Linked DNA regions of Homo sapiens: region 2 is linked to region 1. A link means that fine-mapping ties the variant in region 1 to the expression of a gene that starts in the linked region. Tissue or cell type: whole blood. Region 1 holds a variant in brackets; the other region holds the start of a gene. All regions are shown on one strand. Distances are from middle to middle.

Region 1 (2,681 bases):
AGAGAGTGAAGGAATTTGAAATCATGCCTTTGAGTCTGGGAAAGGGATGTTCTGGGGGCTTGTGGTAGCCTTCTTCAAATACCAAAGGACTGTCCTGTGGAAGAGCGTTAGACTTGGGATGGGCGCTGGACTAAGTGCAGGGAGACAGAATCCGGCCCACCTGGGAGACATCCAGGCGGCCCCCACTGAAGGCCCTTAAGCTCTCAACTGCGAAAGGATGAAGGTATAGATTGCAGCAGCCGTCTGCCTGGTAGGGAACCTCCTGTCCAGCTCTAACTCACAAGAGTGCATCGCTTTACACCTCTCAGAACTGGGGCAGAAACCAGGCTGTCAGAGCACCACGATGATGAGGGAGGGTGTAAAGCCTTAGAACACAAAAGAATGTTAAAAGTCTTCTCAATTTTTATATGAGTTACATGTTGGGGTAGCAGTAACTTGAATATATTGAGTTAAATAGTTGCTGTTTGGGAGTTTAGGGAAGTTTTAAAACTATGAATTTGGGTTTCTCAGCCCTTTCCACATTCCTTTAAAGATGAGACCATCAAACTCAGTCTTGATGATATCTGCATTCCACAGGGTTACTCAGTCACTGAGCGTTTCTGGCATTTTATCCTGTCTGTCTGCAGTTTCCACAGAATGCCAATAAGGTATAAATCTTCATTAAGAAAATTTAGAAAATAAGTAATAGCAAACTTTTGTTAAGGACAAAGGGTCCTTTTAAGAGTTTGATGTGGTCCTTGCCAGATGGACAATAGAGACCCACGTGCACGGACATCAGGTGGCTGCTTAGTCTGGGTGTGAAAAAGCTGCAGTTTCTGCTAGTGTATAGGAAGTGTTATCTGGATTCTAATCCTGGCTAATTCTGCCTGGCTTGCAGTTCTTTTCAATTTAAATAAGTGTAGTTTTTAAAGTCTGGAAAGGCCTGAGGATATGGGGCGGGCAGGGTTGATAGTTTTCACTCTCTGTTTCCTGAGAGAAAATAATGTTGCATC[T/C]TCAAAACAGCATCTGTCAGAATGATTTTCATCAGATTAAATAAATCCTCAAAGCAGCTATCATACTTCTTAGACTTGAGAAATGTAGGTTATACTTTGCATGGAAGCCTAATGGCATTTAAAATAGGTGTGTTTTGCATGTACAGCCTTACACCCAGACCTTTGACTGGGGTTTCTCGCTTGTGAGATTTTGTTCAAGCTACCACATCTCAAAGAGTTTAGTAACTGTTTTTACTTTATAAACGTCATAAATAATTATTTGCCAATTTAAGTTGCTGTTAATTATAGTTGGAAAAAAGGATTGGGCTCTGAAGCCTTTGGGCCAAACTTGATGAAAACCTTCAACACAACATACGCTCTGTCACGGGACAAGTTACATGAAAATACATATCGCTGTTAGACATTTTGGAAGAGGCCTGCCTTTTGCCATCTTTTCATGGGCAGCTGCCATATGTCCTTACAGCCAATTATGGCCTTTTCAGTTTTAGAGAAGAATTTTGGGGGCGACTTTTGGTTCATAAAGACCTTTAATGAATGATCAATACAGATTGATATTTATTATTCTGTGGCAGGGAAGCTTATTCTTAAAATTAGTTGCTAAATCTAAACCACAGTACGATACTTCCTCACACCCATTAGAATAGAGCCTTTATCCAAAAAAACAGAATAAAACAAAACAGAAAACAACGAGCGTTGGCAGGGATATGGGGAAATAGGAACCCATGTGCGTTGCTGGTGGGAATCTAAAATGGAACAGCCGCTGTGGAAAACAGGTTGGTGATTCCTCAGAAAGTTAAACACAGAATTACCATATAACCCAGCAATTCCACTTCTGAGTTACACACAAAATAATTGAAAGTAGAAACTCGAGCACATATTTATACACCCACGTCCATAGCTGCACCATTCGCAGCAGTCCAGGTGTCCATCAGCAGATGAATGGATAAGCAGAATGTGGTCTGTCTGTACAGTGGAATGTTATTCAGCCTCAAAAAAGAATTCCCACACATTCTGCAACATAAATGAACCTTGACAATATTATGCTAGATGGAATAAGCCAGACACAAAAAGACAAGTACTGTATGATTCCACTTACATGAGATCCCTAGGGCAGTTAAACTCACGGTGATGGCCAGGGGCTGGGAGGAGGAGAGAATGGGGAGCTAGTGTTTAATGGGGACAGACTTTCTGTTGGGAATGATGAAAAAGTTCTGGAAATAGATAAAGGTGATGATAGCATAATAATATGAATATACTTAATGCCACTGAACTGTATACTTAAAAATGGCTAAAATGGTACATAATTTTTTTGTAATTAGTTGCTGAGCTGGCTGGGGTTTCAAAGCGAAGTTAGAAGGGAGGGAGAGCTTGGACTGTCTTTAGGAAGAACGTTTGCCTTGAGCAGACCAGAGCTAAAGGAGACCCTCAGTCTGGTGTCCTGTCACTTCCCGCCGAGTCGCCTCTTGCGGCTCGATAAGACTTTCTCATGCAACACAATTCTTGAATATTGTGTAAAAAGTGCAGTCTTAAAGCAAGGACCTCGCCTGCGGAAGTGCTGGACACATGGGGTTCTTTTCTTTCAGTGCCTTATTTCTTACCAGTGCCAAACAGATGGGGGCGCTGGAGCACAGCAGTGCAGGATGAAGTCTCAGGCCTTCATGTTGTTCTTCCCCAGGTTAATTAGGTGGA
Region 2 (2,681 bases), 70 kb before region 1:
CGAATCCAGCAAGGCATTGCGGAAGTTAACAGCAGTTGCAAAACACTGGGGCAGGCGGGAAGAACACGATCCAAGGCACGAGAGCCAGGGGTCAGCCACGGCAACAGGAAGATGATGGTGAAAACCAAAAGTTTCTGAGAGTGGTCTCAATTTAGGAAGTTTATTTTGCCAAGGTTAAGGACGTGCATTGACACAACCTCAGGAGGTTCTGATGACATGTGCCCAGGGTGGCCAGGAAACATCTTGGTTTTATACATTTGAGGGAGACATGAGACATCAATCAATACGTAAGATGTAGGTTGGCTCTTTAGGAGGTAAAATGTGAAGTGGAGGCGTCCGGGTCATAGGTACATTTAAAGGTTTTCTGATTGGCAACTGGTTGAGAGTTATCATCTAAAGACCTGGACTCAGTAGAAGGGAATGTCCGGGTTGCATGAAGGAGTTGTGGAGACCAAGGTGTTATCATGCAGATGAAGCCGGGAATACACTGCAAATGTTTCTTATCAGAGTCCTCTATTAGTCTTAGGGTCTCCGTGCGGATGTTTGTGAGGCCATGTTTGACTTCCGCTTCCCATCAAGGCCTGAACTAGTTTTTCAAGATAACTTAGAAGGCCACAGGCGGAGGGGAGGGTCCATCCGTTGGCTGCAGGGCTTAGAATTTTATTTTTGGTTCATAACGAGGAGGGCAGGGACAGAAGCCACCGTCTCTGCTCCCCAGCGCTGGCCCTCACTCGGAAAGCAGGCTCTCCCCTCGCATCGTCTTTTAACAAATTCCTGCTCTCTCGGCCCCCGTCGCTGCCATCTGGGCTCTCCTTTCCGCGCTTCATTAGGCGCTGCCGCGGCAGGGGCTGAGGGCCTCAGGGGACGGTCGCCTCCCTGCCGGGACGCCCCGGCCCTGGCCCGCACTGTGGGGCGCAGTCACCCAGCCGTCGCCGCGTAGCCAGGAGCCCGGCTGAGCGCGTTCGCTGCAGGAGCCATCCTCAGCTGGGCCCTACTTAACTTTCCGCAACTCCAGTCCCCGCAGCCAGTCGGGGACCCCGCCTCCCTCTCCTTCCTTCTCCCTCTCACTTCTTCACCCCTTCTCTCCCCTCCCTCCTCCGCCCCCGCCCCCGCCCCCGCCCCCGCCCCCGGCCACAGCATCCGACGTGGCGCGGCCGGCTGCGCACGCACCGTATGCTTGGCTCGCGGCCCAGCAGGGCGGGCGGGCCGCGGTGACGTCAGTGCGCATGCCGTCGGTGGGCTCGGCTGCGCCACGTCGGCGCGCGGCGGCCGCGCCCCCTTAACGGCAGTGGCACTCACCCGGCTCGCGCGGCCCCGGCGCCCCACGCGCGCGCGTCGTTCTCCCGCCCGCTCGCTCCCCGGCGCTCACACCTGAGCTCACTCGCGCACGCCCGCCCGGCCCGAGAACCGCGCCGCCGCCTCGGCCCCGCGGAAGCCCCGCCGCGTCATGTCTTCGCCTCCCGAAGGGAAACTAGAGACTAAAGCTGGACACCCGCCCGCCGGTACTGACTCTTTTCCTCTCTCTCCACGCGCGGGTGCCGGGGGCGGGCTCGAACCCGGGGGCGCCGGGCGGGGGCTCCGCGGGGAGGGCCCCGGCGAGCGCTGAGACGGGTTCCGGGCCTTGATGCCCGCCCGAGGGGCGCGGGCCGCGGAGAGGTCGGGCGCCCAGGCCCGGGAGGAGCCCGCCGGAGCTTCGGCCCCGCTTGCCGGCGGCGGCGAAGCGTTTCTTCCTGAGGACCGCGGGCGGCCGCGTACCTGTGCGATTGCGCGCAGGCTCCGGTGCCTTGGGCGAACCCAGTTGCACAACTTATAACAAAGTTTTGGCGGATAATATTTACTTAGAGGATACAGATGTCTAGAAAGAAAGTAGCAGAAGCAATGAAAAGTCAGTGGTGTTAATATCATGGTGATGATTAATTAGAGGCTGCCAGCGTTTCATACCGACTCAAGAACCAAGGAGCGGAAATAATTTTTATCATTAATCACTCAATATGACTTTCACCGCCAGTTTCTTCCACATCCAGATTTTTTTTTTCCCCCAAAGTTGCTTTTTCTGATTTTGAGCAAATCCTAAACTTCTGAGCCAAGGAAGTTAAAGCCAGGAAAGAGCGGTCTTTCTTAGAACATAGGGATCTAAGCAGCCTTCATGCTTCTGCCACCTCCTCCTCTCTCTGGGCACAGTTCCTGTTTGCACTTTGGATTCTGTCCAGACGGGTCTGTTTCCGTTTCTACTCTCCTTTCCAGTGGCAGTCGGCCCATATGGAGGGACACTGGTGAGAAGATCAAAGGCCTTGGGTCTCAGAAGCCAAGTCACTTCAATGTATGGATGCGTGAGGTTCTTTTAGGTCTTAATAGCACGCCTTAGTGTCATAAACTCAGTCTTGTAGGAACAGAAGTCTTTGAGAAACATGGCTTCTTTTGGTGGCACATTTGCGCCATTTTCTTGACAATAAAGATTCCTGGCCAGGCGCGGTGGCTCATGCCTGTAACCCCAGCAGTTTGGGAGGCCAAGGAGGGTGGATCACTTGAGGTCAGGAGTTCAAGACTAGCCTGGATAACATGGTGAAACCCCATCTCTACTAAAAGTAGAAAAATTAGCTGGGCATGGTGGCGGGCGCCTGTAATCCCAGCTATTCAGGAGGCCGAGGCAGGAGAATGGCTTGAACCCGGGAGGCAGAAGT

Evidence for each region. PIP is the estimated chance that this variant, and not a neighbour inherited with it, causes the effect.
Region 2: it holds the start of DAP, and the variant in region 1 is fine-mapped to the expression of DAP in whole blood (INTERVAL, PIP above 0.99).

Annotation. Positions count from the first base shown.
Region 1 is chr5:10,689,943-10,692,623 of GRCh38, reverse strand. The region is part of intron 2 of DAP (death associated protein); the gene reads left to right. Among named protein-coding and RNA genes, the nearest start is that of DAP-DT, 70 kb to the left of the region's middle. The variant T/C (reference allele first, on the strand shown) is at 993.
Region 2 is chr5:10,759,835-10,762,515 of GRCh38, reverse strand. It overlaps DAP (death associated protein), which reads left to right and starts at 1,282. Exons shown (of 4, transcript NM_004394.3): 1 at 1,282-1,502. The coding sequence starts at 1,448. DAP-DT (DAP divergent transcript) reads right to left here and starts at 1,480. Exons shown (of 3, transcript NR_187555.1): 1 at 1,300-1,480. RefSeq lists silencers at 747-1,216, 1,297-1,726 and an enhancer at 379-1,224.